Linked DNA regions of Homo sapiens: region 1 is linked to region 2. Evidence: fine-mapped expression QTL. A gene starts in region 2. The other region holds a variant in brackets. All regions are shown on one strand. Distances are from middle to middle.

What was found. PIP is the estimated chance that this variant, and not a neighbour inherited with it, causes the effect. A credible set is the group of variants that fine-mapping cannot tell apart.
Region 1: its variant is the best candidate, but not a certain one, in a credible set for the expression of C9orf40 in monocytes (BLUEPRINT, PIP 0.59).

Annotation. Positions count from the first base shown.
Region 1 is chr9:74,926,679-74,932,201 of GRCh38, reverse strand. No RefSeq gene overlaps it. Among named protein-coding and RNA genes, the nearest start is that of C9orf40, 23 kb to the left of the region's middle. The variant C/T (reference allele first, on the strand shown) is at 2,208.
Region 2 is chr9:74,950,840-74,955,839 of GRCh38, reverse strand. C9orf40 (chromosome 9 open reading frame 40) reads left to right here and starts at 2,928. Exons shown (of 2, transcript NM_017998.3): 1 at 2,928-3,654. The coding sequence starts at 3,229. CARNMT1-AS1 (CARNMT1 antisense RNA 1) reads right to left here and starts at 2,875. Exons shown (of 5, transcript NR_121183.1): 1 at 2,723-2,875. RefSeq lists silencers at 2,947-3,156, 3,427-3,636 and an enhancer at 3,967-4,036.

The DNA of each region.
Region 1 (5,523 bases), 24 kb after region 2:
TGGTTAGATGTGTCCCTAGGTATTTTATTTTGTGCCTGTGGCTATTTTAAATGGGATTGCATTCTTCCTCTGGCTCTCAGCTTGAACGTAACTGGTATATAGAAATGCTATTTATTTTGTACATTGATTTTGTATCCTGAAACTTTACTGAAGTTTTTATCAGTTCCAGGAGCCTTTTGGCAGAATCTTCAGGATTTTCTAGCTATAGGATCACATTTTCCATAAAGAGAGATGGTTTGAATTCTTTTCCTATTTGAATGCCTTTTATCTTTCTCTTGCCTTATTGCTCTGGCTAGCACTTCTAGTACTACTTGAAATAGGAGTGATGAGAGTGGGCATCCTTGCCTTGTTCCAGTTCTCAGGTGGAATGCTTCCAGTTTTTGCCTGTTCAGTATGACGTTGTTTAGAACACTCTTGTGTTGTTTTAACATACTCTTGTGACCTTTTGTGAGCTTGAAATCTCTTAATATTTTAAAATAGAATGGCTTTGACTTTACTGAAAAGAAACATACTTGTAAAAATTTAAGCAACACAGATAAATACAAAAAAGAATTTTATGATATCACTGTAATTTAGAAGTAATGTTTAGTAACACTAGATGAGCATCACATCTAGAACTTCTTGATGGACAGAGGGATTGGTGAATTGAAATATATAGATGCATAGAGGAAAGGTAGACAGAAAGAATTTTGTAAAATGCTTATTGGCTTATCATGCAATAAGCCACTTAAAATAAAAGGTATTACATGCAATTTTACTTGAATTTAATAGAAGGTAAGAAATTGAAATAAAATAGAAGAAACTGCTAAACCTCAAGATGTTTCTCTTTTAAATTTGTATTTATTTCTTATTTTCCAATGCCCTCTAGTGTTCCAAGGATGTTTCTTTTTTAAACACTTTTTTTTTTTTTTTTTTTGAGACAGAGTCTTACTCTGTCGCCCAGGCTGGAGTGCAGCGGTGTGATCTTGGCTCACTGCAACCTCCTCCTCCTGGGTTCAAATCATTCTCCTGCCTCAGCCTCCCGAGTAGCTGGGATTACAGGCATGCACCACCATGCCTGACTAATTTTGTATTTTTAGTAAAGATGGGATTTCTCCATGTTGGTCAGACTGGTCTCAAACTCCTGATCTCAGATGATCCACCCGCCTTGGCCTCCCAAAGTGCTGGGATTACAGGTGTGAGCCACCACACCCGGCCCACAATTTTAAAAAATTCATCTCCTGGCTGGCTGATTTCATTGCTGTGTAGTTTTTTTTGTTTGTTTTTTTTTGAGACGGAGTCTCACTCTGTCACCAGGCTGGAGTGCAGTGGTGCAATCTCAGCTCACTGCAACCTCTGCCTCCCGGGTTCAAGTGATTCTCCTGCCTCAGCTTCCCGAGTAGCTGGGACTACAGGCACTTGCCACCACGCCCGGCTAATTTTTGTGTTTTCAGTAGAGACGGGGTTTCACCATTTTGGCCAGGATGGTCTCAATCTCTTGACCTCGTGACCCACCTGCCTCAGCCTCCCAAAGTGCTGGGATTACAGGCGTGAGCCACTGCACCCGGCTCACTGTTATTTTTTAAAGTTCATTTTTATATGTGTTGCTTGGCTTGTTCAAGGTTCAATTCCTTCAGCTGATTATTTTATTTTATGGCTCTATATCCCTCAATAACATGTTTTTATTGTTATTTCTTGGTTAGCTTCAGGTATTTTGTTTTGATAACTCACCATGGAAGCTGAGAATTTAGCTCCTTTTGCCACCCCCACCACACATACGCACACATACATTTCTCCATATAGATATATTGTAACCTTGGCTAGTTCCGTATTCAGGATTTTCAGTATTATGAAAATGCTACTCACAGGAGAATACGTAGTATACTAAGATTCCTTATCCGCACAGAATAGGAAATTGTAATATACTATGTGTATTAGTCTGTTATCATGCCGTTACAGACATACCTGAGGCTGGGTAATTTATAAAAGAAAGAGGTTTAATTGACTCACAGTTCCACAGAGCTGGGGAGGTCTCAGGAAACTCACTATCATGGTGGAAGGGAAGCAAACATGTCCTTCTTCACATGGTGGCAGCAAGAAGTGCCAAGCAAAAGAGGGGAAAACCCTTATAAAACCATCAGATCTTTTGAGAACCCACTCACTCTCACAAGAACACCATGGAGGTAACCGCCCCCGTAATTCAATTATCTCCCACTGTGTCCCTCCCA[C/T]GATATGTGGGGATTATGGGAACTACAATTCAAGATGAGATTTGGGTGGGGACACAGCCAACCCATATCACCATGATTATTCTTTTCCTGGAATTAGTTTTTTTTTTTTTTAACTTGCTTAGTTGTCTATGTATTTTCTAGTATTTCAAGCCCAATCTCCCCCCACCCCGATTAGTAAATTATTTTCAACATGTTCTAGGTATTTTATCATTTGCAACTTATTGAAGAAAATCTCCCCACATTCTCCATGCCTGCTCAATTCTGTCTAGTTGCTCATTGCACCTACTGCACAGCCCTTGTTTTGGGGCCTCCTTTCCCTCTCACCCTGTGGATTCTTTTTACTTTTTCTCATATTGGCTCCCCTGTTCCCTGAACACCATACTTTCCATTTTCAGTTTATTCCATTGTTTTTGTGGAGCCAGTCCTCTAGTAAATCTTAAGAGGTGAGAATGTTAGGAAAATCTCAGGTTCTGAACACCTGAAAATATTTTTATTCACTTTTGCATTTTATTGTCTAGCTGAATGTGTTACTCTACATTGGAAATAATTTTTCCTCAAACTTTTGATGCCACTGGACCATTGTCTCCTAGTTTCCAATGTTGCCATTGAGTTATCCAATACTTTTCTGATTCTTCAGTTTTGTATGACATTTTTATCACAAAAGCTTATAGGGGCTTTTTTTTTTCCCACTGTTGTAGACTTTCACAATAATTTGAATTCCTTTTCATCCATTGTGATGGATGCTCAATTTAGAATTTAGACTTATATGCTGGGAAATTTTCTTGAATCAATTTCTTGATAATATCCTTGACTCTGTTTTTTCCCTTCTCTCTATCTTAGGACTCTTGGGCTGGTCTACAAGTTTTCATAGCTTTTCCATTTATTTTTCAAATTATTGTCTTTTGCCCTACTTTCTGGAAGATTTTTCTGGAAGATTAATTAATTAAATTAATTAATTTTTTTTTTAAGACAGGGTCATGCCATCACCCAGGCTAAAGTGCAATGGCACAATCATAGCTCACTGCAACCTTGAACTCCTGGACTCAAGCAGTCCTCCTGCCTCAGCCTGCTGAGTAGCTAGGACTACAGGTGCAAACCACCATGTCTGGCTAATTTTTTCATTATCCGTGGAGACAGGAGTCTCGCTATGTTGCCCAGGCTAGTCTCGAATTCCTGGCCTCAAGTAAGCCTTTCACCTTGGCCTCCCAAAGCACTGGGAATATAGGTGCAAGCCACTGTGCAGCTCACAGAACTTAAACACTGCAATTACTTTTGCACCAGCCTAATATGTATATATGTTTTCATCCACAGTTCCTGGCTCATAACTCCCATAGCCCTTGTTACGGTCTTTTGTTAAGACTCATAAGTAGGCCTCAAGTGACAGAATCACTCCCTCTGACCTTCTCCTGCCCTCTTTTCATTAGAGTCCCAAGGCAGCACTCGAATCTGATTGTGGGTCGTAAGACCCTCATTCCAGATACGGTCTTGCTGCATACTCTGGAGGAAGGAATGCTGCACGGAGAGCAAGAAGAATCTGAACTGAACAGACAGACCTTGCTGGGTTTAGATCACACCCTTTTTGTGCAATCAATTATTTTTATTTTTTAATTTTTTTTTTAGACGAAATCTTGCTTTGTTGCTGGGCTGGAGTGCAGTGGCGTGGTCTCAGCTCACTACAACCTCTGCTTCCCGGGTTCAAGCGATTCTCCTGCCTCAGCCTCCCGAGTAGCTGGGATTACAGGCGCCAGCCACTATGCCCAGCTAATTTTTATATTTTTAGTTGAGACAGGGTTTCACCATGTTAGGCCAGTTTCAAACTACTCACCTCAAGCAATCCACCCGCCTCGGCCTCCCAAAGTGCTGGGATTACAGGCCTGAGCCACCGCGCCCGGCTATCCAATCACATTTCGCCACGATTGTTCGTGCTTCAACCATGAACAACCAATGAAGTCTCCGTAATAGGCCCAAACGAGGGAGTTCAGAGAGCTTCCGGGGAACTGAACACTTGGAGGCCAACAGGAAGGTGAAGAAGAACTCATTCGTGTGCTGGGAGGGTGGCACACCCCAACTCCACAGGGACAGAAGCTCTTGCACTCAGGACCCTTTCAGAGCTGGCCCTGTGTATGTCGTTATCTGGCTGTTTATTTGTATCTTTTAAAATCTACTTTGTAATAAACTGGTGAAGGTAAGTATTTCCCTGAGTTCTGTGAGTCGCTCTAGCAAATTAACCCAAAGAGGGACTCATAGGAACTCCAACTTGAAGCTAGTCAGTCAGAAGTTCCGAAGGCCCGGACTTGTAACTGGAGGGAAGGAGGGGACGGACAGTCTTGCGGGGAGAGCCCTCAACCTGTGGGATCTGACGCTATCTCCAGGAAGACCGTGTCAGAACTCAACTGGGGGACACCCAGCTGGTGTCTGCTGCTGAAATGATTGCTTGCTTGCTTGCTTGCTTGCTTGCTTGCAGGTGGGGAGAAATCTCCGCATGTTTTGGGGTCACAGAACTCGTCTGTGTTGATTGTTGTCGGGGGAGAGCAGAGGGAAAACCGGTTCGGGAGTGTTTTCAAAACAATCGACATCACCCTATTTCCAGTCTACTTCCTCTGCCCCTGGGAACCACCGTTCTACTCTGTGTTTCTATGTATTCAACTCTTTTGAGATTCCACATAGGCTGAGCACTTGGCTCACGCCTCCAATCCTAACACTTTGGGATGCAGAAGTGAGAGGATCCCTTGAGGACGGGAGTTTGAAACAAGCCTGGGCAACATAGTGAGATCGAGTCTCTACAAAACTACTTAAAAATTTACATTTTTACATTTTTATGTAAAATGTAAAAATTTACATTTTTACAGTTTACATTCTTATCAACAGTGTGGAAGCGGTCCCTTACTTCCTCATCCTCACCAACACTTGTTATCTTTTGCCTTTTTGGTAATGACCATCTTAACAGGTGTGAAGTGATATCTCATTGTGGTTTTGATTTGCATTTTCCTACCTGTTGGACATTTTTACGTCTTCATTGGAGAAATGTCTATTCAGGTCTTTGCCCATTTTTAAATTAGGTTATGATTATTATTATTTTGCTATTGAGTTGTGTGGGTTCCTTATATATTTTGGATATTAACTCATCAGATATATGGTTCACACATATTTTCTCCTGATCAATAGGTTACCTTTTCATTTTGTTGATTGTTTCCTTTGCTCTGCAGAAGCTTTTTGTTTGATGTAGTCTCACAGGAATGATGTATTTTTTGACAATTTTTTCCTCCCTGCTTTGTTTTCTTTACTTCATATTAAATTTTTTCTAAAATATCCAGTA
Region 2 (5,000 bases):
GTATAGTTGACACACTCCTAAAGAACAAGATGTCAAAGACTGCTCTCAAAACTTTGATCATCTTGATGGTGGTTATGGTTTCACAGGTGTATGAATGTCAAATTGTACACTTTATATGCACATTATTGTGTGTCATTTAGACCTAGGTAAAGCTGTTTTAAAAACAAAAACAAAAAAAAGCCCGGCAAAACAAGCCTGGGCAACATAGTGAGACCTTGTTGCTACTAAAAATAAAAAATTAGCTGGGTGTGGTGGCACAAGCCATGGGCCCAGCTACTTGGGAGGCTGAGGCAGGAGGATTGCTTGAGGCCAGGAAGTTGAAGCTGCAGTGAGCAGTGATCACGCCACTACATTCCAGCCTGGGCAACAGAGCAAGACCTGGTCTCAGAAAATATATTAAGCTGGGTGTGGTGGCTCATGCCTGTAATCCCAACACTTTGGGAGGCCAGGGCAGGCAGATTGTTTGAGTTCAGGACTTTGAGACAAGTCTGGGCAACGTGGCAAAACCCTGGCTCTACAAAAAAATTTTAAAAATTAGCTGGGTGTGGTGATGTACACCTGTAGTCTCAGCTACTCAGGAGGCTGAGGTGGGAGGACTGCTTGCCCCTGAGAGGTCAGGGCTGCAGTGAGCTGTAATCATATCACTGCTCTCCAGCCAGGGCAACAGAGCAAGCCCCGTTTCAAAAAAAAAAAAAAAAAAGTTATTTAGCAATATACATACAGACATACAAATGGAAGAGTTAAAAAGCAAAGGAATGATTAACTCAACATGTAAAACGGTAATTACCGGGAGTGAGGGAAAGGGAAGGGTATGTGCCAGTGGGGAAGGGACGCATAGGGAGCTTGTCATGTTCTAGTATAGGTAGTATTCTATTTCTGAAACAGAATGCTGTATGTCTTACTATCATTCTTTTAACTACATGTGTATTTTATACAACCTTTTGCATATATGATAAGTTTCACAATTTTGAAAAAATGAGCGTTTGTAAAGAGGAACACAAAAGAACCAACCATTAGCTAAACTTATTATTTTGGGGGTACTCAAAACCTTTCAAACAGCACTTGATGACTACGATTAAGATCTTTCCTGCTGATTTAAAAATGGCAAAACTCTTCCTCTGTTTGAGACAGACGGGTTTTCAATTTATTTTTTTTTTTTTGGAGACAGGGTCTCACACTGTCACCCAGGCTGGAAGTACAGTGGTGCAATCTTGGCCTCTGCCTCCAGGGTTCAAGCGATCCTCCCACCTCAGCCTCCCTGGGACTACAGGTGCAAGGCACCACCTCTGGCTAATTTTTGTATTTTCTGTAGAGATGGGGTTTCACCATGTTGGCCAGGCTGGTATGGAACTCCTGGGCTCAGGTGATCTGTGCACCTCATCTTCCCAAAAGTGCTGGGATTAAAGACGTGAGCCACCGCACCCGGCCGGTTACCAATTTCAAACAAGAAAAGTAAAAACCAAACAGAAAAGCTATTGCTTACTACCCTAACTTGGTACATTTCTGTGCTTGTTAATAACTAATAATTAACTTGTCCTCTCACAACCACCTTGAGATGCAGGGGTACAGGGTAAATTAGTACTGAGATAGTACCTAGCACTAAAATAGAATTATCTTTCTTGCACACTTTTTCTACAGAGGATGATAGTTTTTCCCTTCAAAGCACTGGTAATAGTCTTATTTTCTTCCTTCCATTTCTGCTTACTTGGTTACTGTCTTTATCAAACTATTAAAATAGTAAATACGACCAGATGCGGTGGCTCACACCTATAAACCAAGCACTTTGGGAGGCCCAGACAGGAGATCGCTTGAGCTCAGTGGGGCCCGGCTGCAGTGAGCCGTGATGGCACCACTGCACTCCCGCCTAGGTGGCCGAGAGAGACCCTGTCTCAAACAAAATAAAAAATAAAAATAATAAAATAGTAAATATACTGCAATTGTCTCCACCTCACTTCACCTGACAACACTATTTTGCTGTAATGGCCATAGAATCTTGATCTGACCACCGCCCATAGTAAGCAGGGAACTCAGCCTTCCAACATTAATTAAGAGCCCAACAATTTTAGGTTTCAGTTAGAAAGGACAGCTGCGCTTCAGGCTTGGTTCTTGCCAACTACTCAGCTATTTTGGATGAGCTGCACATTTTGTCTGTAACTTCCTCCATAAGTTTTTAATCAAGAGATCTTCCAGGAATGTAGGGCCTGCTTCACCTTCCACAGCAGCTGCGCAAAACATGCAAAACATACACTTCGATTTGTGTTTTCTGTTAGCTTTAGCTACTTCCCTCAGCCCAGACTCCCTTCAGTCTTTTGTTTTGAATAACAACCTACTGTGAAGCTTCTTAAACACTAGTTTTATTTAAAGCTTGTATTATCCTTTTCCTTTTTTTTTTTTTTTTTTTTGAGACGGCATCTCGCTCTGTTGCCCAGGCTGCAGTGTAGTGGTGCGATCTCTGGCTCACTACAGCCTCCACCTCCCAGGCTCAAGTGAATCTTCCTCCTCAGCCTCCCGAGTAGCTGGGACCACAGGGGCAGGCCAACAAGCCTGGCCTATTTTTGATTTTTTGTAGAGACGAGGTCTTGCTATGTTGCCCAGGATAGTCTGGAACTCTATTATAATCTTTGTCTTAATCTCATGGAGACGCCCCCGTGGTCACTGACTGGAGGAAGGAAATACACATTTTAAAGGTTTTAAATTTCCTATAGAAGGGTCTAGAACGTACCGCGCTATAACGAACATAGTAGTAAGACCACCGCCACACTCCTGAGGAAACAAGGTCACGCCCCTCTGCGGGCCGCTTGATCGGGTCTTTAATTAATCCCGCCGCGGCCTTCCCGCCTACCCCCGAGCGCGCACTTCCGGTCGCGAGGGCGCTCGGGAGCGCGCCCCGCGAGCCTCCACCAACCAGCGGCTCCGCCTGGCCAGACAGAGTGCGCGCGCGCACGTTGTGCGCAGGTTCGAATCTCCGCCGCTTCGCGGTTGCTTCTCAACGTCCGGGCCGCATCTCGGCGGCGGCGAGGGCTGAGCGCGGGAGCTGCCTCCGAGCCGGAGCCCCAGCCCTAGGCCCTGCGCGAGCTGCCCCGCCCTACCCCCTCCAGCGTCCTGTCGCCTCCTCGCCCGACTTCGGCCTGTCCCTCTCTCACGCGCTCAGTCCTCGCTCTTCGCCCCCCGCAGCTATCGGCACTCGGTCTCCCGCGCCTGGCGGGCTCCGCCCGAGCCTCTGGGCCCATGGCCAAGCGGCGTGCGGCCGAGCCGGTGACGTTCCACGTGCCTTGGAAGCGGCTCCTGCTTTGCGACTTCGCTGAGCAGCCGCCGCCACCGCCTCTCTGGATCCGGCCGCCCGGGGTCGCGCATGCTGGGCAGCTCCTCGGCGTCCCAGAGCAGCACCGAAAGCGCAAAATCGACGCAGGGACCATGGCAGAGCCCTCGGCTTCGCCCAGCAAGCGCCGTGACAGCGGGGACAACAGCGCCCCGAGCGGCCAGGAGCGTGAGGACCACGGTCTGGAGACAGGCGATCCGCCGCTGCCGCCGCCGCCCGTACTGCCGGGGCCGGGGGAGGAGCTCCCGGGCGCCCGGCTCCCGGGGGGCGGTGGCGACGACGGGGCGGGGCGCGCAGGACCCCCGCGGGGAGACTGGGGGGTCGCATCGCGCCAGGTAGGGGCTGGGGGCGGGTGGGCTGAGGGGCGAAGGGGCTTGCCTTTTCCCCACACACACAAAACGCCCCGGTTCCCACTCATGACTTGTGTAGGTTAAGACGCCTGAGGGGGTTGAAAGAAGGGGTCACCGCTCCGGGAGAGGACGCCGACCGCCAGAAGCACACCCCGAGAGTCCGATGGGCAGAAAGCACTGGGCTGGGCGAGGGGGAAACAGACCGTGGTCGGGAGCGATAGAAGTGGCCTTGCGGCGTCAGCGCCGCGCTCCGTAAAAGGGAAACGGGACCGTGGGTCGTGGCGGGCTGTGAGCATGGCGAGAACGCAGACCGTCAGGGCATAGGTTCAGCCCAAAGACAAACGACAGATAAAGGTGTAGAGGGCCTTCCTGGGTTTAACGATGATTAGTCTAGAATTCGGGATAGAGTTCTTTTTCTAGAGGGAGACCAGTGTGGTAGCCATTGATTAATTGAACGTCCTACCGGCTGGTACAGCTTCTGGAGAAAAGGATGGACCACCGTACCTTGGTCAAAGCTTTGTTTTAACTCATAGTGTTAAATCTGATCCTAGGCAAAAGTATCATTGAAAATTAATTTGGGGGCGGGGCGTGGTGTCTCACGCCTGGAATCCCAGGACTTTGGGAGGCCACGGCGGGTGGATCACCTGAGGTCGGGAGTTCGAGACCAGCCTGGCCAATAGGGTGAAACTCTGTCTCTATTAAAACACAAAAACTAGCTGGGTGTGGTGGTGTATGCCCGTAATCACAGCTACTCGGGAGGCTGAGGCACAAGAATCACTTTAACCTGGGAGATGGCGGTTGCAGTGAGCTGAGATTGGGCCAGTGCACTCCAGCCTGGGCCACAGAGTGAGACGCTGTCTCAAAAAAAAAGAAAAGAAAAGAAAGAAAAAAGAAAATTAATTTGGGCCTTAAGGCGTATATGAGAATCATTGGCGGGTTTTTATTCAAGACATGAGCCTGCCTCATCTCTGCATGTAAGAATCCTGAGAAGATCTAGGTATGCCTCGGTTTGCCTAGATCTCTGCTGCCCGGCCGCTAGCCGGTAAGAACACTTGAAACGTGACTAGTCCAAATGGAAATGTGCTCTAAGTTTAAAATATACACGAAATTTCGTGGATTTAATAAATGAAGATAAAATAGCTCAATTTTATATTGATTACACATGAAATAACTTGGCTATATTGAAGAAAATATATTAAAATTAATACCAGAAGTTTCTTTTACTTTTTAAATACAGCTACTAGAAAATTTTAAATTATGTTTTTGGAGCATTATATATTTATTGGACAGCTTTGGTCTAGACTTAGGAATTCATACTACTTTTTCACAAT